Homo sapiens: one gene and its partners. The protein of the gene in region 1 purifies or fractionates together with the protein of each later gene. This does not show direct contact. Each region holds a gene or a part of one and is shown in the gene's direction. Other genes may lie near its edges. The genes, in order: TWF1, BASP1, TXNDC5, CORO2B, PIGR, TIGAR and CORO1C.

Region 1 (3,500 bases):
CCAGAAGGTTAATTACAGTTGTCCTATAGACTTACAGGATGACCAGGTTCAGTATTTCACTTTGCCAGTATGAAACTCATACAAAATATTTAGTAATTATAAAGCTTCATATAAAATGAACAGTGGGTACTCCCCTTAAAAAGTTTTGAAACTTAAAATTGAGGATTAAAGAAAAGTAAAAAGATATTAAAATTCATAATGCTATTTATTTTCATTTAAAATCTTTTCTGTTAATGATTTTGTTTTTCCTAAAGTAACTTCACTGTCATTTTACTTCTAGAGAATTACTGATTATAGTCTATTCTGTACTTACAGGAAGATGTATCATTACATGGATATAAAAAATACTTGCTGTCACAATCTTCCCCTGCCCCACTGACTGCAGCTGAGGAAGAACTACGACAGATTAAAATCAATGAGGTAAGTTACAACTACAAAGTCTTTGCAAGATTTTAAGTGTTTGAAAATACTGTATTTTTAATTAATAGATGTGGGAGGATAACTAGAGATTAAAGAAGTTAGGTAGCTTAGGTTTATTCCGTTTAGTTTAGAGATAAGGCTATGTGCTTAATGCCTTTTCAGAAAAAAAAAGTTAAAATGAATATTAAACTTTATATGCATTTTATAAATAGCTTTTCCTATAATCTTCATGTCAGAATAGTAAATCTTCCTTTTGAAGTACAACTGTTGTGAACTTTGTACTTTGAATATTATATAGAGAAAAAGTGTGTGTTACCCATTTAGTGCAAAGAATGTATCTAATAAGGTTGCCTGAAGCAGATTATTGTTTTGTTGGCTTTCTAGAGAGTCTACAAATTAACTTCTATGAACTCTACTTGAATAGAGATATATATGGAAGATTATTATTTGAGTACCTGTTGAGCATATTAGAGTCAATAAATTTCAGCCATATTATTTTGTAGTTTATCATTATTTTTAATGTGTTTTCTACAGCCATTCTAACATACTGGAATAACTACTGTATTTCTACTGGGACTTTACAGAAAAGAACAAGTGGCTGAAACCACTATTCATTAGCTGAAACCACTGTTCATTAGCCTGAGTCACAGACAGTAGGAATCAGTCTGGAGAATGGTTGAATATCATTTAATATTAAACTGGTAGCAAGGATCTATCATATTATTTTAATTCATATTATTTGAGTAGGGCTTTTTATGTGATTTTTTTTTTTTTTTACGAGTTTGATAGTTTGTTTTATTTCTTGCAATCAGAGCCCAGAGGATCATATTGGGGTATGCATTCGCATATGTTCTATGATGTTTTCATTAACCAATATCATTTATGCTGTAGAATCTCCATTCATTTTTTTAAAAGTAAAATTTCTATTGGACTTTCTGTTGCAACACTGCGAATGAGACTCTCTACTAGCTATCATTTATCAAGTATAAAAATCTTAAACATGTGCATTGAATGCTTTCTTATCTTTCTCCTCTTCCAGTACATGCACACCATGTTCTTAGTAAAGAAATCTCTTAAGTCTGGAACTTCTGCAGTAGTATAACTTGTTGAGCTGTGTTGTCTTTGTACACTGTTTGTACTCCTTTCAATTCAGTGCATGATGTTTGTGTTGCATTTTCTGTCCAACAGAACAAAGTAAAGTTCTATACATATTGTATGTAGATTGTTGTTTATAAATTCTATCAAGTAAAATTTTACAATCAGTGGTGTAATCTGATGACACTCTAAAGAAATTGTGCCAAACCAAACATAAAAACAAACCCACCCAAACCCCACTAACTGTACACTCATTCAAATGTTCACTTCCAACATTGTCGTAAAGATGTGTCATGCACTCTGCATGTTGACAAAATGCTAGCAGGACCGTAAACAAATGTGAAAAATAATTTTAATTATAGGTTGGGCTAGGGTTGAATGATACTATTTTATAGAGGTTGGGTTTTCTTATGTTTGCCATAGGATACTGCTAACTGCTAAACTTGTAAATTAAATCTGTCATACTTAGGTACAGACTGACGTGGGTGTGGACACTAAGCATCAAACACTACAAGGAGTAGCATTTCCCATTTCTCGAGAAGCCTTTCAGGCTTTGGAAAAATTGAATAATAGACAGCTCAACTATGTGCAGTTGGTAAGAGATGTATAATGATTATTAAGTGGCTGCTCTTTTTGGTAGTTTATGACTCATATAGGGTTTATTATTAATGGATTTTACATTTTAAATAGCTTTCTGATTTCTAAAATTCATTTTGTAAATGTTCATTGTGAAAAAGTCAAACCATCCAGAACTAAGTTCCTCCTTTATCTCTTGGTCTTTTTATTATATGTTTTAACTTAATTTCCTTATATCTGGTTTTAATGAACATATTTTGTTTCTTATTGGCAGGAAATAGATATAAAAAATGAAATTATAATTTTGGCCAACACAACAAATACAGAACTGAAAGATTTGCCAAAGAGGATTCCCAAGGATTCAGCTCGTTACCATTTCTTTCTGTATAAACATTCCCATGAAGGAGACTATTTAGAGTCCATAGGTATATGATACATTGTTTTTAACACATTACTTTCAGTTTGTTTATTGGTGTATCAGCCCTATATTCTTACTTATTTCTTGCCCAGAGGGCTTAGCTGTAGTTTTATGAAGTTTCTGTACTTGTTTTTATGAAGTTTATATATGTAGTTTTATGAAGTTTATGTATTGATATGCTAATTATATTTGTTATTATTTGAACTTACAGTTTTTATTTATTCAATGCCTGGATACACATGCAGTATAAGAGAGCGGATGCTGTATTCTAGCTGCAAGAGCCGTCTGCTAGAAATTGTAGAAAGACAACTACAAATGGATGTAATTAGAAAGGTAGCCCACCTATTTTAAAATCTTCAGTTTTTGCTAAATTTTTCTTTTCATTTCTATGTAGTTTATGATGTACTGTGATTTATAAATGAAAATATTTATTTTTCTTGTTATCATCCTAAATCCTTAGGATCTCCTCTAAGTGCCTGGGAACTACCTGTCATGATCCCCATCTCTATATATATCTGTACTTCCTAGTAAGCCACATGTGGCTATTTAACTTTAAATAAGATTTAAAGTTCTGTTTCTTAATTCCACTAGCCTTATGTCAAATTCTCATTAGCTAAATGTGGCTACTGGCTACCGTATTGGTTAGTGCAGAATTTATAGGACATTTCCATCAGTGCAAAAAGTCCTATTGGACAGCGCTGCCAGAGCTGCATACTTGTGATTATTTCTACTGCATATTAATAAGGAATTACAGTCTCCATTATGACTGAATTATGGGATGGTTGGGAGTCTTTCCAGTTTGGGGGAAGGAAGGAATAAGCATAAACATTTGAATTTTGGGAACTAAGCTACCAATTTTCTTAAATTTTCTTAAGTACAGATAAGGCATGGGGAAAGATATATATTCTTGAGCCCTTAAACTCATAAAAATACAGGTCCTTAAAAACTACCAGTGTTTTTAGGTTCTGAACCCTTCATGCTTTTTAAGTTC
Region 2 (4,288 bases), on another chromosome or scaffold:
GTCACTCCGGTTCTGGAGGGCCACCCTGTCCCTGAATTCACGCCCAGGTCCTGAGGGCAGAACCATCCTGAGGACAACCTGCAGCTCCATCGATTTTTTCTTGGCTGGGACGCAGGCGAGCATGAAAGCGATCCAAACACAGCCAGAGGGCGCCAAAATGCCGCAAATAAAAGTTCCAAAGGCGTCAACTGGCTTTTGCGGGAAGGTAAAATTGGCTTTTGTGTAATCAAAGAGCTACCGTTGTCAACGATGTCACGTTACGTTATTTTTGTATGTCCCTCTTGCCAACAGGTAAGCAAAGTGAACGCATCTTCCTACCCCGGTGGCTATTCTGTGTCCCGGTGCTAAACCAAGTGTCCGCCCCCTTAGGGCACCCGGACAAGCCGCGGTTGGCCCTAGCTTTGACTCGAGCGCTCGCAAGCAGCAGCGTGCGGGCTGCCTCGGCCAACCCCGTCTTCTCAATATTGGTGGCCTCCATTAAAGCACAGACATCAAAAACATCGACGGCCCCTTTCCCCTCTTCTCTTCCCTCCTTCCTCTCCCAAGTTCCGAGAGCATCCTCCGAGGGGCGACGTCTCTCGCCCCACCAGCTGGACCTCGGCGACCGCGCCTCCCCCGAAGCTGCAGCCTTCGGGGCTGAGCCCCGCGGGTGCGGGTGCAGGTGCGGAGCCGCCCAAGGTGCGCAACTCGTTTGCAGCGGCGCAGCCCAGACGCGCCTGCAGCTGGGGCTCACCCCAACCTCGCTGCCAGCCGAGGTAGCGGAATCGTAGTCGACGTCGGGAGCGGGCTGGACTGGGGTCTGAGAAGGGTAGCTGGTGCCAGGGGGTGTCATTCATCACCTCGAGGCAGCTCCCTAAGTCTGAGCGAGAGCCCGAGCACTTCTTATCCAACGGTTCCAAATAAATGAGGGGGAGAGAGAGAGAGAGAGTGAGAGAGAGAGAGAGAGAGAGAGAGTGAGTGAGAGAGTGAGAGAGTGGGAGAAGTCCACGGACAGCCCAGGCGGCGCGGCGGGGGAAGGGGGACGCAGGAATGGAGGAGAGGAGAGGGGAGGCGGAGGGGGGATCTGAATAGAGGGCATTTAGGAAACGTTGGCGGGGCACAGAGTTGGGAGGTGGGGGGAAGGGAGGAACCAGGATGGCGGATAGGAGAGAAATGGGGGTGACTGTGCTGGAGGGGAGGGGAGGTGGGGGCCCAGAGCTGGGGGGAGTCAAGGGGAGGCGGGCGTGTCCAGGCTGGAGGGGAGAGGGGAGGGTCTGCGCCGGAGGAGGGGAGGGGAGCAGAGGGAGTGCAGGGGGTGGGGAGATGGAGCTGGAGGGGGTGGAGGGGAGACGGGCGGGGCGCCGGGCTGGAGGGAGGGGAGAGAGGCGGGCGGGGAGCGCGGGAGGAGGGAGGCTGGGCGGGCGGACGCGCGGGGGGAGGGCACTGGGCAGGAAGGGGAGGGGGAGCGAGCGCGAGAAATGCAGAGGCTGCAGCGGCGGCGGCGGCGGCAGTAGCGGCAGCGGCGACGACGGCGGCGGCAGCGCTCCAACTGGCTCCTCGCTCCGGGCTCCGCCGTCGAGCCGGGAGAGAGCCTCCGCCAGCGGCCAGGCACCAGCCAGACGACGCCAGCGACCCCGGCCTCTCGGCGGCACCGCGCTAACTCAGGGGCTGCATAGGCACCCAGAGCCGGTAAGGAGGCGCGCCCGGTGGCCCCGCGCCGCCGCGGACCCGGGGGCCTCCGTCCCCCACCGCGCCGCGCCCCGCCCCGCAGCCCCCGGGCTCTCCCTTCATGCAGCGGGCAGCAGGGATGTGGGCCCGGATTGGACGGCAAGGGCCTGGGGTCCCTCTGTGAGGGCTCCGTCGCACTTCGGGGATCCCGGGTGATGGGGGGCCCAGAAGTGGGAGGCTTCAGCCGCTCGCATGGTGGAGGGGTGAGGGGGGCGGCGAGGTTGGTAAACGGAGCTGGGGGGAGGGGGCTGTCGGGGAGAGGAGCTGCGGGTGACGGGAGGAATTGCCGAATGCGAAACCCCCTCAGTGCGTTGAGTCCCGGGGAGACGGTTCTGTGGGCTGAAGGGAGCGCTTCCGTCATCGGAGCCCTTACCAGCCTGGGAGAAAGCGCTCGGGGCGAGGGGCGCAGCAGCCAAAGATGGAGGGTGGGGGTGGGGTGGGGCGGGAGTCCGGGGAGAAAGAAGATGGGGAATCTGGCCCGATCAGAAGGAAGTGGGTGGCTTTTTGCTTTGGCAAACGGGTTTTCTCGACCCATGGGACTCCTGGATCTTGGTTCTGGGGCCAAGGAATACGAGGTTCACACGGCGACGTGCACTCAGAAGCACCTCCCGAGCAGATCGGAGCCCCAGCCTCGTCAGTGGCGGAATTGCCTTCCTACGAACCCGTGGGCTGCCTCGGAGCAGTTTGTTTTTTCGAGCCTTTGGTTCCAAGAATGCGCCAGGCGCCTCCGCCCTGGGTCCCGGCCCCGGCCCGGGCCCGGGGGGTGTGGGCTTGAACCTGACAGCGCGCGGCCCTAACTGGGCTCAGCCCCGCTGGGAGCGTAGGGTTGGGGTTGAGCAGCTTTTGCCCAAAGCGCTAAAGCTGAAACCCGGCGCCCGGTTCCTGCTCCCCCCGCCCCCGTCCCCCCTCCATTTCCAGAAAAATAAAAATTGCGGAATCCTGGATCCGATCGCACGCACAATGCGCGGCTGCAAACCGCATTCTTTTCATGAATATTCATCGAACGCTTGGCCAGGCTCCTTATCTGCGTCCCCAGAGACATTTCCGCCTTGAAACGAACTCGGTGGACAGCCCTTGCCCATGTAATTCTCACTCTGCTGAAATTAGCACAGCACACATGGGTGCATTTTTTAGGACCTTGTACAGGTTGACAACACCTCTGTCTCCCCCGCGGCCACTCGCACTGTGGGGCGGGCTAAAACCCAACACTAGCGTCGAAATGGCCTTCTGCTATAGGGTTGTGGACCGACCCCCCACCCCCACCTCCCGGGATTACAGCCCGGGCCAACAGACCCCCAGTATACTGCAGGCAAAATGAATGAATCGGGACTGTAATTACCTATTCCTTTGTCTTGGCCTCGCGCATGCGCCGGAGAGCAGGGTGTGGAGGGCCCGGCAGCCCCATCCCATCTCCATCATCCAGCCACCCACTCCCCTCCCGAGCCGAGGAACAAAGGCGTTTGCCCTAAATGTTGCGGGAAACCCTTGGACACCAATGACAGTTTTTCCCGCCTGTGTGTGTGTTTCTTCTTTTCCAGGCTGTCTCTCATCTTTTGCTTTCTTGCTGATTTCAATTGACCAAAATTAAGATTTGCCTTGATGAGGATGAAGGCAAATTGTGGATTAAATATTTTGTACCCGCACACTGTTATTTTCCTTTCTAGTACTGTTCATTGTTCTTTTTCCTGTAACATATCTTACTGCAGTGAGGGTGGCTTTCTTAATTTGCATCAATTAACCGTTTGACAGATCTTTTTTGGTCATTTGATTAAGGGAAGGTGGCCTCAAAACTGTCAGTGGGCGTTGCCTCCAGTGACACCACCTGGGGAAAATTAAGACATCTTGGCGTTTATTCGAACAAGATGGCCTACAAAAACCGGAGAGAAGAAAACGATTACCTTGTCGGGATCCTAACCCTTTCTGTTTTCTCTGGACTCCGAACTCATTGTTTCATTAAGGATTCCAAAAGGCGAATGGCGTCCAGATGGAAATCTGATGGGGGCAGAAAGAAGGCAGTCGTTGGGGTGAAGCTGGTTGATTAGGTTCGCAATGATTCCTTTTTCCCCATTACCTAACAGAAGCCATGATATACCTTTGATGGCTGATTTTCTTTCAGATGATCTATTTTCCAGGTTATGGCCATTTAGATTTATTTTCAGGTAGTTTGTTTTTACCACACAAAAAGGGACTTATTGTGTATATTAAATAGGAGCCAAATATGATATTTTTTGCAGTGGTAGGTTATGTTTAATAGGGTTTTATGCTTAAGTACTGTCAGTACATCCTGGTGGAATAACGCGTGGCAGCAATGGAAATCATCTCTTTTGTCCTTTTTGATGAGAACTTGATATTGACCACGTTTAATATATCAGGGCCCATCTACTGGCTACGGTGGCTGTCTAGCTGTCTTCTAGGTGGCATGGATTGTACCCTCTGTACTCCTTAGTATTGAGTAGGTTATTATGATTTAGAGAGCTACGTTCTTTCTTTTTTCTTTTCCTTTAGGTTGTGTTTTTGGCGAGGGGTATGTTGGAATATAGAACAAATTCAATAGCAAATATATACCAGCATGTCCCCAATT
Region 3 (3,500 bases), on another chromosome or scaffold:
AGTGAATAACAACTTAGTCCTGCCTATTTTAGTGCTGGTAGAAAATAAAAAAGAAAGCAATGACTTAGAACAAGATGTTTCATGAAAATGTTGGGCAAGCAGCAGCTTTATGAGATTTAAATGAAAGAAAAAGCTTGAAGAGCTGTGCTTGTTGGTAAATTAAGTTTATAAAATTAAGGACGGATTATAATCTTGACATCTTTGCAGTCTTACCTTTATTATATACCAACTACTCCTGTTTAAAATTCACTTCTTGCTCCCTGTTGATTTTAAAACCCTCTAAGCTTCAGCATGAGAGTAAATTCTAAGCTGGCATGTGAACTGGTCTGGGTCCCAGTCACCGACAGCCAGGCTAACCCCCCTCCCACCACCACCAAATGTCAAGCCAGGGCCCTGACTCAAGCTACCAGGTGCTGACTTTACTTGCTCGAGTTAAAATGTTGCTTCCTAAAAACCGGCATGTTTAACTGAGCTATTAATACAATAAATCTTGCCTCTAAAGTCTTTCCTTTACTCCTTTTAGCTCAGGTATGTTTTAGCATAGCTTTCAGGAACATTCTCTTCAAAAACTGCACCTTGCTGGCAGAGTTGCTACAGAATGTGGATTTTGAAAAGAATATTTGTAACGTACAAAGTGTCCAGTAGCCCCATTAGCAAGAAGGTTCATGAAGAAACTGACTGGGAAGTTGATCTGCTTTTATTCTCAGGTTGATTGTACACAGCACTATGAACTCTGCTCCGGAAACCAGGTTCGTGGCTATCCCACTCTTCTCTGGTTCCGAGATGGGAAAAAGGTACGTCTGCACTTCTTAGTACTGAGAATTCTTCATCTCTTAACCCCATCAGGCTGAGCTACTGAGTGGTTTAATGGGCACAGTGAATTGCCAATCTTGATTGTTAGGGCACTGGTTTGGAGAAATGTGTATAATGAAACAAACGTCTTTCTCTTAATTGATAAGATTTGGGTTGTGGAGATGAACCTTGAAACATTTCAGTGGCCCAGGTTATCACTAGAATAACCCACATCTTACAGTCACAGGGTAACTGTGCTCTGGTTGTAAACACAAACCTTCAGGCCTTTGAACAGAGCTAAGGCTTGCACTTGGTCCGGTTCTGCCTGCCTCCCTCCCTCCTTCCCTGGCCGATGGTCAGCAGCTCAGAGTTCCCCATCAGCACAACGGCTTGCTGGCAGGCCTCTGCCCCAGACTTCTGTGATGTGTAACCCCGTGGAGGGAAGAGGGGCCTGTACAGTTCTCTCACCAAAGCCGAGGCATTCAGTTATCCTCTCTACATTCCCGTCTAAATATGAACATGCAGACTTTGCACCACCGCTAAGACATCTGGGAGCTCTGACCCGGGCAAGCAGGGGTTGCAGGAAGGCTTAAGTGATTCAGAACACCTCAGTGGACTCACTCAGCCGCGTGCCCGTGTCTTGGCCAGGTGGATCAGTACAAGGGAAAGCGGGATTTGGAGTCACTGAGGGAGTACGTGGAGTCGCAGCTGCAGCGCACAGAGACTGGAGCGACGGAGACCGTCACGCCCTCAGAGGCCCCGGTGCTGGCAGCTGAGCCCGAGGCTGACAAGGTGGGTGCCTGCTGGAGTCGGGATCCCCATAAGTGGCCCGTGGCCCCCGGCCCCCCACCTCCCCACCCTCAGAGGCCTCCTCAAATGCTTTGGACAAAATGACAGTTTGGGGACACAGTCATCTGATGGTTGGCTCCAGTTGCGTTTTCAACACGTATTTTTCATCGACTTTCACATGCTTTCAGGGGCGAATGCAAACAAAAGCTTTCCTTTTGAAAACATGAAATGGATGTGAGACAAATCCCAAGACAATATTTGGTGTCAAAAATCTCTAGAGAATCCTTCCTTTCCGCTTCATTCATTTTAAAGAATGACTCTGCTGGGCATGTTTCTGCTATGAAATCTCGACTGCTGGCCCCGGGGCCCTGATTCTATTCCTGACCTTGCTCCGGGCATTTTCCTTTACCCGTTGTAAAGGCCCCTAGAAGACCTGTAGCCAAGAGGGCATCCGCAGCGATCAGGCCAGTGACTGTAGCTGTAACCTGCCTAGGCAGTCCTGATGCACTGAGGGGCTTCCTTCCTTCACTCAGGTAGCAGGAGGTTTCAGATTCATTTGTTCTGCTTTATGAAGCCCTTGTTATGTCACAGGCACTGTTCTAGGCCACCAGGGAATAAAAATAAGACCGGTTTCCTGCCTCTGAAGCATACAGGTCTCTGAGGCAAATGGTGAGAAGACACACAAGCCAATGGCAGGGGGCTGGGGCAGAAATGTGTGCAGGGCTTGGCTGCTAGAGAGAAGTGGGGGCAAATGGGCAAGAAGTGTCCCTAAGGAGCTGATTGACGGGATCTGTGCTGGACAGATAGGCTGGGCAGGGCTGCCACTGAGGGGCTGCACCAGGAGAGGCACAACCCGAGAATCAGCCGGCATTTCTGCAGGGCCAGAGCTGGGGCTGGGGGAACACAGTGGGAGACAGGTCAGGGTGTGGTGTAGGATCCCTGAGAGTGAGAGAGGAGCTGGAGTTGAGAGTCTGTGGGCAGCTGGCCAAGGATTAGGAACTGTATCCCATATTGACAGGGAGCCCATGGAGGCTCTGTGCAGATTGGAGTTGTAGGAAAATGACCGGCATGCACGTGTGCTGGAGGTGGGAAGCTGCTCTATTAGGCCTTTAAAGATGATGCGTTCCCTCATGCTGCAGCCGTGACTGTGCGATGGCGAGGAGGAGAAAGCCAGCATAAGGAGTCCAGCCGCTGTGCAGCGCGGAGAGGGAGGGAGGGTCCGAGGCGAGTCTGATTCCCGCATATCTGGTGGAGGATGGTACCCAGCACAGGGGCGGGGCCAGAGCTCGAGGAAAGGGATGAGCTTGGTTTTCAAGGTGTTGATCTTCAAGGCTTTCGGCTGTGTAGGTGGCAGTGTCCAGTGGCAGTTCCAACCATGAGCCTGGGGCTGCGGCAGGAGGTCTGCACTGGACGAGAGTGCCCGTGTCATCCTCTTCAGGTAGAAGTCATGCCTGAAGGCCAGGAGTTTGGATTTGGAAAAACCAGTGGGGCCACCAACCCCTCCTCCCTGGTGGGGCCACACCAGGCCTCCTCACCCCTACAACCCTGTCCCTAGTTGGGCTCTTGTAGGTCGGGGATGGCCTGAGTGTTGTTTAAAAGTTGACGTTTTGGTTGAAGAAGTAAACAGCTGATTTTGTAGTTGTCAGGACCACTTATGTTAGAGGAGTGTATGTGTCATGGTGGTTACAAAGGTCATCCCAAATTGAGTATAATTATATACCACGGATGTTTTCATCGCAGCACCATTTCTATTTATAATGCAGTTTTCCACCATGAAGTGGGTCTTTTCAGTGCGTGTGGCGTCATGTTTCTGGACATAAAGATGGTAGTGTTCCACAGTGGCCCCCTTGGCCTCCGTCACTGACATGTTACTCGATGCCAGACTCAAATGGAGCAGCCCTGGTACACTTAGCCACGTG
Region 4 (3,981 bases), on another chromosome or scaffold:
ACACTGGTCTCCCGGAAGGCAGGCATCCCATCTCCTCTCTGTTCCCCCAGCACTTTCCACAGAGCAGGTGCTCATATATGACGTTGCCTTCGCTGTCCAGGTGAATTGCACCGGTAATTACCGTGGAGCAGGAAGCCAGCACTTCCGGGCTTGCCAGGCTGTCCTGCTTGGAGAACCCCTCTGCTTCCACCTCTGCTAACTCCTCCCCTCCACCCTCTCCGCGGTTCTGTATCTGCGGAAACCGGTTCTGCTCAGGTGCTTGGGAGGGAGACTCCTTTCTCAAGACTTGCGAGGTCACCTTCAGGTGACTGTCCCTCAAATCTCCGCAGCAGCTCCAGGACACACTGTGCCCCGAGTCAGGATTGGATCAACACACAGGACGCACCTGTGTTATCACTCCACCAGTAGAGCGGCACTCAGTGGTAGTGTAGACAGTCCTAGGGCAGGGCAGCTTCTATAACAAGAGGTTCCTTAGGGAGCTAGCGGCCGAGTGGAAAGAGCGGGAGGAACGGCTCGGGCAGGCAGGTCCTGTGCTGTGGTCTAAGTCACTTCCCACGTCCGTCCCACTCTGATCGTCAGTTTCCTCCTCTGCAAAACTCACTAAGGCGGCCTTCGGGCAAGTCATCGCGGCGGGAATTAGATTCGAAAGAGTGCTTACACAAATCCGTCTGGCCACCCTGTGCCCCGGGCCAGCGCGAGGTGGGGGTGCGGGCAGGGCTCCCGGGCTTGCGGCTGCCACGCCCCTCCCAGCCCGCCGCGCCACACTCACGGCCCACGGGCCGACTTTGCGAGCCTCCAGGGGGCGAACCCGACCGCCTTCTTTGCCCGCGCAGCGCCTCGGCCGTCCAGCCTGTGACTTCACCAGCGTCCCCGGGCCAGCGGGACACCCGAGAGCCCGGGGCGCCGCCCGTTCTCCCAGCCGGCAGGTGCCGGGAGCCAGCCTCGCCCAGCCGCGTGGCGTCCGCAGGCCCGAAGGGGTTAAGGCCGCGGACCCGGGCGCCCGTCCGGACTCCGGGAGCAGCGGTGCCCGGCGGCCGGCGATCGAGCGGGAGGCTCGGGGCACGGCCGCTGGCGGGCTGCGCTTCCTCCTCCTCCTCCCTCCGCCTCCTCCTTTGTAGCGAGTTCCCGGCCCCTCTTCCTCCCCCCGCCCCCCAGCCCGGGCCCTCTCCCTCTCTCCCTTTCTTCCTGCCTCGCCTTCCTGCGGCGAAGGAGGCTCATCTATTATAAATGCACATTCGGGGCTGACATCAGCGACGAGCGGCGGGCGAGCGCCGACGAGCGGTCCCTGCGCGCTGCCCGCCCGGAGCGCAGCCCCCAGGCTCGGCCGAGCCGCCGGCGGGGCGCGGGGAGCGAGCCGGGAGCTGCCGGACCCCCTTCCGCCGCCGCCCCGGGCCGCCGCCGCCGCCCCCGCACGCCGCGCCCGCGCCCCCGCTCCGCCGCGGAGTTTCTGCATGACTGTCACAAAGGTAAGCGCCGCTCGCCCGCCGCGCCCGGGACCCGCCGGCGCCTGCATCCCCCGGGCTAGGCTGCGGGGGGCGCGGGGGTGTGGGTGTGGGGAGGGGGCGCCGGTGCCGGGAAGGTGCGGCGCGCGCCTCTCTTGCTGCCGGATCCGCTCGAGTCACTCCGGCCCCCAAGGACTGCGGAGGCCAGGGGGAGGATGCCGCTCTGGCAGCCCCGGCGGTTTGGCCAACATCCCTCCGCGCCCGGCCCAACCCCGGGACTGCATTTTTAACCCTTGTTTGGGATGCTGCATTTTTAACCCCTGGAGAGCTGGGCTGGGCGGCTAGCGGTGTCCCTCCAGGGAGTGCGCGGCGGGAAGCGTCGCTGGCAGGGGCTGGTGCTGAGCAGTGGGTGTGGGGATGGGCCTGCCGCCCCGAGGAGGCCAGCGGAGGGGAAACCCCACCCCACCTGCCAGCCTCTGCCGCCCATGCCGGGAGCGCTGGCTCCACTCCAAAGCCACTCTGTGCAGAAGGCGCTGCCCAGTCCCGGGAGCCGCTACCAGAGACAGGGCAGGTCCAGGTGGTTGGCTTGAAGATGTGGGGAGGGAATGTGACAGGGGAAGCAAAGGTGGGCATCTTGGCAGCCCCCATATTGGAGGATGATTGTTGGGCCTTGTCATAGGGGCCCACGTTTATTGGAGAGACTTCAGGGGCTTCCTAGTTGTAGGGAGGAAAGAGTTAAGAGGAAAGATGATGGGGCAGTGGAAAGTGCCAGGGTCAAGGGACCAGGGAGACCTGAGTTCAATCCCAGCTCTATCCCAGATCCCCTGGATGACCTTGGTCGGGGAGGGGTCCACTTTGGGCCTCAGTTTCTTCTTGTGTGCTGTGAGGGTGATAATATGGGTCCTGGGTTGTGACAGGCTGTTAAAGAACCAATAACATCAAGGGTGTGAACCCACACTCTTCAGAGAGATCTGTCTGGGTACTGAGCTCACAGTCTGGCGGTGGCCTCGGGCTTGGCCGTCCATTCAAGGGCCAGACTCCACCCTTTCCAGCTGCCCAGCTGGGTCCCAGAATTGGGGAGCTGGAGGCCAAAGTGGGACCGGCAGCCCAGAGTGGGGTCAGATGGAGGGTCAGAGCAGTGGGGCCAGATGGAGGGTTGGGGTGCAAGTGATGGAGGTGGGGTGGTTTTGGCTCCTTCTGGTAAGCCAGGGCCTACCCTTGCCCTCCTGAGGTCTGCCCCAAGACTGAATGTTTGTGCGGATTCTTGGGCCCAACTCCAAACTTTGCCATTGGCCCTGGTTCTGGGACTTGGGAGCATTGTGAGAAGATGAACTTGAGGGTGCAGGGGCTTCCTCAGCTCTGGCTACTTCTGGCAGGGCTGTTGTGGCCCACCTGGGGTAAGATGCTTAGGGTTTTGAAATGATGCAAATGCTATTCAGCTGGGAGGGATATTAAGGTTATTAATGTCAAAGATGCAAGCAGGCTGGGACAGAGGAGTAATGGATGGGCCCGGCTAGAGAGAGAAAGGGTGTGAGGTTTTAATAATAGCGCTGAGGATTAACTCAGCGCCTCCCCTGTGTCTCTTTTTGTGCGCGAGCTCATGCAGCCTTCCTTCCCTGGAGGCCTGCAAGGAAGGTGTGTTCAGTTCTCTTTAACAGTGGAAGGAACTGAGGCTCAGAGAGGTGAAATGACTTGCCTGAGGTCACACAGCATGTATGTGGCAGAGCTGGGGTTTGCCCTCAAGTCTGTCTCAATCTATGGCCAGTGATCTTTGCACTGCTCTGCATCGTTGGGCATCCTGGCTACTGGGGGACTTCCATGGTAGAGGAGCACTGCTTGGAGACCTGAACCTTGAAGCAGGGATGGGACAGGGAGTCCATGAAAGTGGGTGCTTACCTGTTAAGCCCACTGGCAGGCCTAGCTTCTTGGTATCCAGTAACTATTCAACACTCCTCCACCCCCATACCCAGCCCCCAACAAACCCTCCATGTCGCTCACCTCCTGCTCTAACCAATGTGGCTTTGGCTTAAGCAAGCTCAGGGGATTAAATAAAATCCCCACCTTAACCCTATCTTCTCTCCCCTTGCTGGCCCTTCACAGACCAGCGTGTTCTTGTGGGGAACAGAGAGCAAGAGGGATGCAGGAAAGGCACTGGGGACTGCTTTGCTGTCTACAAGCCCGCTGGTAGTAGCTCTTCCAGTACCATAGGGAAAGCCACCATGCTCTGGAAGTCTGAAGGCCTGGCCCCTAGTCCTAAATTAGCCACCAACAGGCTGTGTGACCTTGGACCAGTCACTTCCATCCTTGGGCCTCTGTTTTTCTATTTGTCAAATGTAAGACTTGGTTCCAATGATCTCTAGGGCCTCTTCTGCTGAGCCTTGGTGCAGCTTCAGTTCTGGCAAGAAAGTCACCTCTGATGGAGATTGGGAGACTCTTTGTTCTCTGAGGGGTGGTCTGTTTACAAGACAGATATGAAGGAGAACCCTAAAGAGGGTGTGAGAGGTAGGATCGCTGCTGACACACTGGGAGCGGTAGGTAG
Region 5 (3,500 bases), on another chromosome or scaffold:
GTATCTGTGCTTGTGACTTTTTTTTTTTAAAGGGGCTTATATTCTCTGCATGCCATGTCCACATCCAGCTCTGGGTTTTCACCAGAATCCCCTGCATCTTTGGTCACCTGCTTCTCTCTGGATCTCAGCTTTAGCTGCCTGGAGAATGGCTATCGTCTTTGAGATGCCCCTTGGGGCCCCAACAATTAAGCTCACCTTTGCTACATACTTTATAGTTTACATCATACCATCCTAAATATATTTTCTTGATTTGGGCATAATCCATTGGGCCACTTTTGTGGAATACACTTGTTAGTGTACTAAATAGACAAAAACCTACACAGAGGGAGACTTTGTAAGAAGCCAAAGAAGAGCTGATATCCTCTCCTTCAACTCCTTCCATTCTCTGCTCAGAATAAGATGGGGGAAAAGAACAACATGTGCAGGCTGATGGGGAGACTCCAAGCCCTTGGAGTCTGGCCCTGATGGCTCCAGCTGCAGGCTCTGTGACATTAGGAAAGCTCCTTTTCATTTTCTGAAGAGGGTAAGGTGATGCGTGTAAACTTCACTCCCCATCCTGGCTGAGACCCCGGGAAGAAGGCTTCTCAGGCCACGCAAGGCTCTTCCTGCGTGGCCATCCTCCCATCCCATCTCTGTCTGTGCTTCCAGAGTCCACGATTCCCCGCAGCCCCACTGTGGTGAAGGGGGTGGCAGGAGGCTCTGTGGCCGTGCTCTGCCCCTACAACCGTAAGGAAAGCAAAAGCATCAAGTACTGGTGTCTCTGGGAAGGGGCCCAGAATGGCCGCTGCCCCCTGCTGGTGGACAGCGAGGGGTGGGTTAAGGCCCAGTACGAGGGCCGCCTCTCCCTGCTGGAGGAGCCAGGCAACGGCACCTTCACTGTCATCCTCAACCAGCTCACCAGCCGGGACGCCGGCTTCTACTGGTGTCTGACCAACGGCGATACTCTCTGGAGGACCACCGTGGAGATCAAGATTATCGAAGGTAGGAGTTGACAGGGAGGGAGAAAGCTCTAAAACCTCTCCAGCCAGCAGCAGCATCCCCAACCACTCTTCCTCCTTTTTCACCCGCCTCCACCCTGATGGGCCAGACCTCAGGAGGGAGCCCACCTATCCAGAGGTCACATTTTCATGCCTATAACACGCACCTTACACTCTGAATTACCATACATGGTACCTCCTACTACCAAGAACATGGGCTTCTTTCGCAGTGTGCAGGCATCAGCTGAAGTCAAGGATTGCAGATACCTCTTTGTATTGAGTCTAGAAGAGAAGGAAGAGTGAGGAAAGCAAACTGAAGTCCATGTGTGAAGATCTATGGTCTATGGTAGACTCTGGATTGATCATGGTGCTCATCAATAATAATTATTACCTAGGCACACAATTACATTTCTTCTGTAGTCAGAATAACATACTTATTTCTAATGCTATCCAAAGAGGATATGTAGACTGAACATGGTGGTGCATGCCTGTAATCTCAGCACCTTGGGAGGCCAAGACAGGAAGATTGCTTGAGCCCAGGAGATGGAGGCTGCAGTGAGCTATGATCGCACCACTACCCTCCAGCCTGGGTGACAGAGAGAGACCTTGTCTCAAAAACAAAAACAAAAATATATATATATATGTATATGACATGTGGACAAAGATTCCCACCAGAGTCACTTCCCTGCAGCATCTCCAAGTACCAACTTCTGTGTTTATTTCTACCTCCCTCCCTCCTCCAGGAGAACCAAACCTCAAGGTACCAGGGAATGTCACGGCTGTGCTGGGAGAGACTCTCAAGGTCCCCTGTCACTTTCCATGCAAATTCTCCTCGTACGAGAAATACTGGTGCAAGTGGAATAACACGGGCTGCCAGGCCCTGCCCAGCCAAGACGAAGGCCCCAGCAAGGCCTTCGTGAACTGTGACGAGAACAGCCGGCTTGTCTCCCTGACCCTGAACCTGGTGACCAGGGCTGATGAGGGCTGGTACTGGTGTGGAGTGAAGCAGGGCCACTTCTATGGAGAGACTGCAGCCGTCTATGTGGCAGTTGAAGAGAGGAAGGCAGCGGGTGAGTCTCCAAGGACAGGGCCTGCACCCCTCAGACCCAGAGGCAGGACTTCCTGAAGGCCCCTGCCTGAGAGCTTCTCAATCAGTGCTGGCCCCTATGTTTGGCTGTAAGAGGCTGAAAGTGGAGAGTGGGAAGGGAGGGGACATTTAGGTCCTATATAGCCTCGTTGAGCCCTTCAAAAGGGACATCTCAAATAAACATACCAACTAAGTAAAAATAGTGGGTTTGCTATTTAACCTCGGCATTAAGACAACTCCCAGCTGAATGTGGTGGCTCACACCTGTAATCCCAGCACTTTGGGAGGCCGAGGTAGGCAGATCACTTGAGGCCAGGAGTTCAACACCAGCCTGGCTGACATGGAGAAAACTCGTCTCTACTAAAAATACAAAAATTAGCTGGGCATGGTGGTGTAATCCCAGCTATTTGGGTGGCTGAGGCATGAGAATTGCTTGAACCCAAGAGGCAGGGGTTGCAGTGAACTGAGATCGTGCCACCACACTCTAGCCTAGGCAACAGAGCTAGATTCCATTTCAAAAAAAAAAAAAAGACAAGTCCCATAGTTGCCACTTCAACCCAGATTGAAGTCTCTTCTATATCTGGAAATATTCTTCTCTGTATAGAAGAATAATATGCATACATCACTGTCATATGCAATATGTTCATCCCCCTTCCCCCTGCCAAAGCTCGCCCTCGAAAGAGGGCCAGATACCTTCATTTACAAGGTCTGATCAGGAAAATTAGGAAACATCTAGTAAATTTGCATTTCAAGTCCCCTTTTAAAATTTCACATGAAATGTTTTAGCCCTAATAAGGGTATTTGTAGTCCCTCAAGAAATCCTATTGGGTCTGGACCCTGCGGATGGGACTCACTGAGGGGCCCATCGCCAGGCTACCTCCAGGGGGCAGCACTATCATACCCAGCTGGGCAGTCAGGAAGCCTGGGGCAGCGTCTCAGAGCCTTGAAAATCTCCCGGGCATAAGTGATGGGTCAGCCTTTATGCACAGCTGGTCTATGACACGAAGCCTTGAAGGTCCCCACTATACTTTTGGTAGTAATGGGGCAGAGATCATCTGTGACAGCTGAAGAAGGCCATCACAGCTGTTTCTAATGTCATCCTGGGTCCTACCCCAACAGCCTTGAGATCGAACCCTGACCCTGTGATTCCTCATGAAGTCTCCCCCAGACTCCTTCACCTCGAGGAGTAAGAGCATAGAGAAAAATCACAACCCAGGCCCACTCTTCCCTGCTGCAGGGTCCCGCGATGTCAGCCTAGCGAAGGCAGACGCTGCTCCTGATGAGAAGGTGCTAGACTCTGGTTTTCGGGAGATTGAGAACAAAGCCATTCAGGATCCCAGGCTTTTTGCAGAGGAAAAGGCGGTGGCAGATACAAGAGATCAAGCCGATGGGAGCAGAGCATCTGTGGATTCCGGCAGGTAAGGAAGGATTCAAGGC
Region 6 (4,101 bases), about 39 Mb from region 1:
CGGGCGCGGTGGCTCACGCCTGTAATCCCACCACTTTGGGAGGTCGAGGCGGGCGGATCACGAGGTCAGGAGATCGAGACCATCCTGGCTAACACGGTGAAACCCTGTCTCTACTAAAAATACAAAAAATTAGCCGGGCGTGGTGGCAGGCGCCTGTAGTCCCAGCTACTCGGGAGGCTGAGCCAGAATGGCGTGAACCCGGGAGGCGGAGCTTGCAGTGAGCCGAGATCACACCACTGCACTCCAGCCTGGGTGACAGAGCCAGACTCCATCTCAAAAAAATAAATAAATAAATAAAAAAGAGAAGGTTGCTTTAGGAGGAAGTTAAGTTTAAAAGTAAAAAGCAAAGAATTGAACATACTGACATATTGATTCTTTGAAAAGAAATTTAGAACTCATATCTAACATGAAGCAACTCCCTCAACGTTCTGAAGGCTATTAAAGAGAAATTATTCATCTGAGGCTTGTTAAAAACGGCAAGACTTTACTCAAGACTACTGCAATAGGTGAGAGAGACTGAATTCGACTCTAGAATACAACCGGGACCAGTGGAGATTTATAGCCAGGGGGCGGGATGGAAGGGATGAAAGAGAAGATGGGAAATTACCAGAACGTGGTAAGCTATCTGGGGGAGGGGGAGGAGGAACTTTACTAGATATCAAGGGCCTTAGAAGAGAGCATCAACAGTGAGGTCTCTCTTGATAAACAGGCTTAGCAGGATTCTTTGGTAAAACCAGGCTCAGCAGGCCGAGGATGCCGTCTAGTATAGAAAAGGCCTCAAAGGAGCCCGACTAAAGTTTGGTCACGGAGGGCGTCTGTCCCGGCGGAGTTGGGGTGGGTGGGTCTAAGTCTACAGACCTGGCCGACGCTACGTCCCTAAGGTTAGGGACTAACAGACCTCATAGAACACAGTCTGTTGGTCGCTGTACACCCGTGAGGGGTTCATCACAGTGGCCAGCTATAAGACGAACGGTTGCATTCCAGCCTCAATCGCAACAACCACAAATCAGTGCGCCGGCTTCCTTATCTGCCCCGAACGCAGGCTGCCGGCTATCGAGGGAAGGAATCCTACCGCGGACTCCGCGGGCGGGGCCTCCCGCACCTGCCGCGCGCCAATCACAGGCCGGCGCGCAGGGGCGCAAGCGCCGCAGCCCTGGGCGGGGCCCCCGTGGCTCCCTCGTCTCCCCCGCCCCGTCGGCCTCGCCCGGCCCTGAGTGGCCTTCGGGGATGACGTGCGAGGCCGCCTCGGCCTATGGCGGCGGAGCCGGCCGGCTGCTTGGCGGAAGTGGTGTGGGGGAGGTAGCCCGCAGTGCAGGGGCAGCGCGGCGCGGGGCCACCGACGGGACGCGGCTCCGGGAACATGGCTCGCTTCGCTCTGACTGTTGTCCGGCAGTGAGTATGGCTGTGGCAGGATGTCTTTCTCTCTCTCTTCCTTGAGTGTGTTGGAGCGGGTGAAGGGAAAACGGGTCCACCACCCTCTCCCCTCCCTGCTCGCTCCAGCCCGGGAGGGCTGGCTTGGAAGCGCTTTTTCCGGGGCGCTTGCCCTGGGGCCGTCCCGTGTCGCCCCTCCTCTCACCCCAGCAGCCCCGAGGGACGACGGCAGGTCTTAGATAGCTTCGTTCCGTGTTTCAGATAAAGTGAGGCCCGGAGGAGCAAGGGATCGGGGTTCGTAGGCACTTGGTGGCTGCACCAAAAACGGTGCCAGACATGTCCACAGACTTGTCTGGGTACCGATTTTGCTCCCCAGCAGATTGCAAAGAGTTTGCAGAATTGCTCGTCCATGGCTGATGTTTTTGATGCCGGCTGCCTTCCGCTATCCTCTCAGTTTCTGAGGTTCCCCCTCGTTTCCCCAGGCAGTCAGCCCCCCAGGCACATATATGAGACTTCTTTCTTTTCCCCAGAGGTTACAGTTCTGGGAGAGAAAAGAGGATCACAGCTCTGATCTCAGCAGACCGTATCATCCCAAATAAATGTTTTTATTATCATAACGTTACACGGAGCTGCATGCTGATAGGTCTTTATGTATTTGCCAAGTGTTAACGGGAGGTGAAAATCAGGGTAGTTAAGAGCACAGATTTTTATTTTTATTTTTTTTTTTTTGTGAGATGGAGCCTCGCTCTGTCACCCAGGCTGGAGTGCAGTGGCGCTATCTCTGCTCACTGCAACCTCCCGCCTCCGGGGTTCAAGCGATTCTCCTGCTTCAGCCTCCCGAGTAGCTGGGATTACAGGCATGCGCCACCACGCCCGGCTAATTTTTGTATTTTTAGTAGAGACAGGGTTTCGCCATGTTGGTCAGGCAGGTCTGGAACTCCTGACCTTAAGTGATCCGACTACCTCGGCCTCGCAAAGTGTTGGGATTACAGGCATGAGCCACCGCGCCCTGCTAAGAGCACAGATTTTTCAGGCAAGGTAGACCTCGGTTGGAGTCTGTTCTCCAGCTAAGAGCCAGGTAGCCTGGACTTAAGTTTCCTGATATGCAAATGATAGTGCGTATCTCACTACTTTAATGCGAGAATTAAATGGGGGACAGGTAAAGTGTATGATGCAACAGGGAAAGAAATATATCTGAGAAATAACTTCTATAAAGAAAGCTCCAATAAAAGTGCAGTTGATTCCCAAATACGAACGTATAGTTCAGCACACCAGCATTTTGAGTAGGTAATGTGTGCCAGTAGACTGGATCATACAGATAAATAACATACCATTTCTGCATTCATGGAGCTCACAAAGGACATTAATATGATTTAACTTTGTCAATTGACTTTAACAGCTATCTTTTCTGGCCTGTCCTTCCTTTATAAGAAAGATAATCTTAAGAATCCTCTAAAATTGTCTGTTTAGGATTAGCAGGATTTTAATGGCTACCTTAGAAATCTAGTTCCTCACTATCTCTTCTCCCACCCCTCTCGGTTGTATAGAATGCCTTGGGAGAATTCTTAACTTACTAAAGGTCACACAGCTAATCGGTAGCAGAACAGGAACTAGAGGCCTGATCACCCTTTCTTCCAATGTTAGTGCACTTTCTAGACGCCTGACCCAGCCAGCCCAGTGTCATATTTATAATTGAAACTCAGACCATCAAGGTGGTTCACCCCTGTAATCCTAGCACGTTGGGGGGCGGAAGTGGGTGGATCCCTTGAGCACAGGAGTTCAAGACCAGCCTGGGCAACATGGTGAAACCTCCTCTCTACAAAAAAAAAAAAAAAAAGCTGGCTGTGGTGGTGCATGCCTGTGAACCTAGCTAATAGGGAGGCTGAGGCAGGAAGATCACTTGGATCATGTGAGCCTGGGAAGTGAGGGCTGTAGTGAGCTGTGATTGGGCCACTGCACCCCAGCCTAAGCGACACAGTGGGACCCTGTCTCAAAAAGAAAAAAAAGAAAACTCAGAAGTTGTAGAATATTTGGGGTAAGGCAACCCCTAAAAAGTAAGATGATTCCTATTTAGATTCCTAATAGACAATAGTCATATAAATATGGATTTTATTCCCTTTCTGCTGCTTAAAAAGGGTTTGATTCCGGAGGCCCTCATAGGAATCATTTAAAAAATAAGTCTTAATAAATGATTATTTGCCAGGCACTGTTGTAATTAAAATCTGACAGTTTAGTGAGTTAAGGACTGATATCCTCATTTTTCACATGAGGCAGCTGAGACAGAGACGCCTTGTAACTTGCTTAAAGTCACATGGCAAGTTGAGGAAGTAGGAGTTTAACCAAAGCAACTTTACCACTCACCGTCTTTTGTTTCCTACTTAATTTGTTAAAACCCGGTATTTGTAGATTACTTGAACATCACCAGCCATTTTTGAGGCTACTTTTTAGTCTCTTAATATAATTGTGTGGAGTTATGACAATAGTTTATTTTGTTCTGTTTTATGTGTAGGAAGATGGAGTGAGAGGGCTGGTTCAATGCTTTCCGGTCTGGATCCTCCTGCTTCTTGCCTTCAGAGTTCTCAAAACCAAAACCTGGTGATTCTTTCAGGAAAAGAAGTGATTTTTAAATTTGACTCATTATCACCATAGTTAAATGTAATGACTTTTTGAAGAGTTAGATAATTTTATTGGACTTACCTCTTCAGATAATGCAAAAAAATCTTTAAAGCA
Region 7 (3,500 bases), about 65 Mb from region 1:
GCCTTTTTTCACAAAGAAATAGTTTGTATCAGTTCACTAGAGTCCTTAAGAGTTTATAAGTCTTGATCAATTAAACCAATTGGCTGCATTCCTGATTTTGCAGCTTAGTATTGAATATTGATGAATCAATTCCTCACCCTTTTCCAAACACAGCTGTTAAAGATGCAACAGGTGGCCGGGCATGGTGGCTCACACTTGTAATCCCAGCACTTTGGGAGGCCGAGGTGGGTGGATCATTTGAGGTCAGGAGTTTGAGACCAGCCTGGCCAACATGGTGAAACTCTGTCTCTACTAAAAATACAAAAATAAATAAATAAATAAATAAATAAATGCGCAGGGCGAAAAGCAACAAGTTCTCTCATCAGCTCAGTGTCTTAGTTTCTGCCACCCAAACTGGACCTCAACAAAATCACATACCTTGACAAAAGATGGACATTTGGGTCTTCAGTCGGTGTTGAAACTACACATAGTAAGTCTGAGAAGTCCTCATTTGCCACACTCTGAGGCCCTTCCTGAGATGTGGTTGTTCTTTGGCTGCATCTCTTTTCAAGAGTTGGGCAATGATAGTAGCTGGTGCTTACTGAGCCCTGGGGACTTGCCCAGCCCTGTGTTAAGTGTTTTCTCCACCCGACATCTTCTAAGGGTTGTCCTAGTGCATTCATTAAACTACTGAGGTCAAGGAAAGCGTTAACTAGACAAGGCTTCTTTCTGCCCTATGATATTGGTAGAAATGGTAGGGCATGCCTAATCTCCTTATGTTATTATCCTCTTGAGAAACAAACATTTGTCAGAGTCCTTTCATGTGTTTTATTTTCACAGTGCATAGACTTGGGTTGGCAGCAGGATATGGTGGAGAGAGCGAGTCTTCTGAGTTAAATCCTGGCATTCTTGCAGCCTCACAGAGGGACCTTGACCAGATCACATAGTATCTCTTTGTTTCCTCATCTGGGGAAGGGGGATGGTTAACACTGACCTCCCTCCCACACCCAGGTGAACATGAATGGCAGTTGGTGAGGTTGGATCTGTGCCCGAGTTTCTCCACTCACCTTGTCTTCTTGCAGTTTAATGTGTGGCATGTGCCTTTTTGCTCTCCAGGAGAAGGAGAAAGCACATGAAGGAGCAAGACCCATGAGAGCCATCTTCCTGGCCGATGGCAATGTCTTCACCACTGGGTTCAGCCGCATGAGCGAGCGGCAGCTGGCTCTCTGGAATCCGGTACGCCCTCCCCAGGCTTTCCACTTGCTTTCACTTGAGCTTTCTCTCTGTTCTGAGCAGGTCTTCCAGTGAGTAAGTAGATTATGGGATTCTTAGTGTAGTTTTCTAAACGCCTGATTGTCTTAGATTGGATGTGAAGTTCTTATCCTCGTTGGAGACTTACTGGTAAATGTATTTCAAAGACATACTTTTGATACTCCTGAAGAGGCTGTTGACTATATATTTTTTATTTTTTTAATTTTTTTTAATTTTAATTTTATTGGTCATTTTTGGGTGTTTCTTGCAGAGGGGGATTTGGCAGGGTCATAGGACAATAGTGGAGGGAAGGTCAGCAGTTAAACAAGTGAACAAAGGTCTCTGGTTTTCCTAGGGAGAGGACCCTGCGGCCTTCCGCAGTGTTTGTGTCCCTGGGTACTTGAGATTAGGGAGCGGTGATGACTCTTAACGAGCATGCTGCCTTCAAGCATCTGTTCAACAAAGCACATCTTGCACCGCCCTTAATCCATTTAACCCTGAGTGGACACAGCACATGTTTCAGAGAGCACAGGGTTGGGGGTAAGGTCATAGATCAACAACATCCCAAGGCAGAAGAATTTTTCTTAGTACACAGCAAAATGAAGTCTCCCATGTCTACTTCCTTCTACACAGACACAGCAACAATCTGATTTCTCTATCCTTTCCCCACCTTTTCCCCTTTTCTATTCCACAAAACCGCCATCGTCATCATGGCCCGTTCTCAATGAGCTGTTGGGTACACCTCCCAGACAGGATGGTGGCCGGGCAGAGGGGCTCCTCAATTCCCAGAAGGGGCGGCAGGGCAGAGGCGCCCCCCACCTCCCGGATGGGGTGGTGGCCGGGTGGAGGCTGACCCCCCACCTCCCTCCCGGATGGGGCTGCTGGCCGGGCGGGGGCTGCCCCCCCACCTCCCTCCCGGACGGGGCGGCTGGCCGGGTGGGGGCTGACCCCCCACCTCCCTCCCGGACGGGGCGGCTGGCCGGGCGGGGGCTGAGCCCCCACCTCCCTCCCGGACGGGGTGGCTGCCGGGCAGAGACGCTCCTCACTTCCCAGACGGGGTGGCTGCCGGGCGGAGGGGCTCCTCACTTCTCAGACGGGGCGGCTGCCGGGCGGAGGGGCTCCTCACTTCTCAGACGGGGCGGCTGCCGGGTGGAGGGGCTCCTCACTTCTCAGACGGGGCGGCTGCCGGGCAGAGGGGCTCCTCACTTCTCAGACGGGTCGGCCAGGCAGAGACGCTCCTAACCTCCCAGACGGGGTCCCGGCCGGGCAGAGGCGCTCCTCACATCCCAGACGGGGCGGCGGAGCAGAGGCGCTCCCCACATCTCAGACGATGGGCGGCCGGGCAGAGACGCTCCTCACTTCCTAGACGGGATGGCGGCCGGGAAGAGGCGCTCCTCACTTCCCAGACTGGGCAGCCGGGCAGAGGGGCTCCTCACATCCCAGACGATGGGCGGCCAGGCAGAGATGCCCCTCACCTCCCAGACAGGGTGGTGGCCGGGCAGAGGCTGCAATCTGGGCACTTTGGGAGGCCAAGGCAGGCGGCTGGGAGGTGGAGGTTGTAGCTAGCCGAGATCACACCACTGCACTCCAGCCCGGGCAACATTGAGCACTGAGTGAACGAGACTCCGTTTGCAATCCCGGCACCTCGGGAGGCCGAGGCTGGCGGATTACTCGTGGTCAGGAGCTGGAGACCAGCCCCGCCAACACAGCGAAACCCCGTCTCCACCAAAAAAATACGAAAACCAGTCAGGCGTGGCGGTGCGCGCTTGCAATCGCAGGCACTCAGCAGGCTGAGGCAGGAGAATCAGGCAGGGAGGTTGCAGTGAGTCGAGATGGCAGCGTCCAGCTTCGGCTCGGCATCAGAGGGAGAGCGTGGAAAGAGAGGGAGAGGGAGACCGTGGGGAGAGGGAGAGGGGGAGGGGGAGGGGGAAGGGGAGAGGGAGGGGACTATATTTTTTAAAAAGAATGAAGAATCTAGTGTTTTGGATTTGGAAAATAAGTTCATATTTCATAAATAATATGATCAGTTGTCTAAATCAAAATAGTCATGCTTGGGAAAATGTTCATAATTAGCTTAAGTGGGGAAAAATACAACATACATTCTATCATCTCAATCTCTGTGTACATGTGTCGGAAGGAAATAGATCAAAATGATAATAGCTTCTGTCACCCACTGGGCTGTAGGATTTTGATGGAATGATTTTTATGTTCTTTTTTATATCTTTCAACTTTTTAAAAGCACACATATTTTATAATTAAAGAAGTACTTT

Evidence for each region.
Region 2: the proteins of TWF1 (region 1) and BASP1 purify together in Homo sapiens (affinity purification with mass spectrometry; one large-scale study listed by BioGRID and IntAct). This does not show direct contact.
Region 3: the proteins of TWF1 (region 1) and TXNDC5 fractionate together in Homo sapiens (co-fractionation; one large-scale study listed by BioGRID). This does not show direct contact.
Region 4: the proteins of TWF1 (region 1) and CORO2B purify together in Homo sapiens (co-immunoprecipitation; one large-scale study listed by IntAct). This does not show direct contact.
Region 5: the proteins of TWF1 (region 1) and PIGR purify together in Homo sapiens (affinity purification with mass spectrometry; one large-scale study listed by BioGRID and IntAct). This does not show direct contact.
Region 6: the proteins of TWF1 (region 1) and TIGAR purify together in Homo sapiens (affinity purification with mass spectrometry; 2 studies listed by BioGRID and IntAct, with this or other methods). This does not show direct contact.
Region 7: the proteins of TWF1 (region 1) and CORO1C purify together in Homo sapiens (affinity purification with mass spectrometry; one large-scale study listed by BioGRID and IntAct). This does not show direct contact.

The regions. Positions count from the first base shown.
Region 1 is NC_000012.12:43,796,318-43,799,817, reverse strand, and holds part of TWF1 (twinfilin-1), read left to right. Parts: intron 1-315; coding exon 316-420; intron 421-1,232; coding exon of another isoform or gene 1,233-1,253; intron 1,254-1,984; coding exon 1,985-2,110; intron 2,111-2,365; coding exon 2,366-2,516; intron 2,517-2,720; coding exon 2,721-2,842; intron 2,843-3,500. UniProt on the Homo sapiens protein: Actin-binding protein involved in motile and morphological processes. Inhibits actin polymerization, likely by sequestering G-actin. By capping the barbed ends of filaments, it also regulates motility.
Region 2 is NC_000005.10:17,216,143-17,220,430, forward strand, and holds the start of BASP1 (brain acid soluble protein 1), read left to right. Parts: upstream 1-1,488; 5' UTR 1,489-1,668; intron 1,669-4,288.
Region 3 is NC_000006.12:7,886,789-7,890,288, reverse strand, and holds part of TXNDC5 (thioredoxin domain-containing protein 5 isoform 1 precursor), read left to right. Parts: intron 1-707; coding exon 708-794; intron 795-1,440; coding exon 1,441-1,584; intron 1,585-3,500. UniProt on the Homo sapiens protein: Protein disulfide isomerase of the endoplasmic reticulum lumen involved in the formation of disulfide bonds in proteins. Can reduce insulin disulfide bonds.
Region 4 is NC_000015.10:68,577,812-68,581,792, forward strand, and holds the start of CORO2B (coronin-2B), read left to right. Parts: upstream 1-1,181; 5' UTR 1,182-1,451; coding exon 1,452-1,466; intron 1,467-3,981. UniProt on the Homo sapiens protein: May play a role in the reorganization of neuronal actin structure.
Region 5 is NC_000001.11:206,932,967-206,936,466, reverse strand, and holds part of PIGR (polymeric immunoglobulin receptor precursor), read left to right. Parts: intron 1-648; coding exon 649-981; intron 982-1,720; coding exon 1,721-2,047; intron 2,048-3,300; coding exon 3,301-3,481; intron 3,482-3,500.
Region 6 is NC_000012.12:4,319,912-4,324,012, forward strand, and holds the start of TIGAR (fructose-2,6-bisphosphatase TIGAR), read left to right. Parts: upstream 1-1,301; 5' UTR 1,302-1,360; coding exon 1,361-1,392; intron 1,393-4,101.
Region 7 is NC_000012.12:108,655,019-108,658,518, reverse strand, and holds part of CORO1C (coronin-1C), read left to right. Parts: intron 1-1,095; coding exon 1,096-1,215; intron 1,216-3,500. UniProt on the Homo sapiens protein: Plays a role in directed cell migration by regulating the activation and subcellular location of RAC1. Increases the presence of activated RAC1 at the leading edge of migrating cells.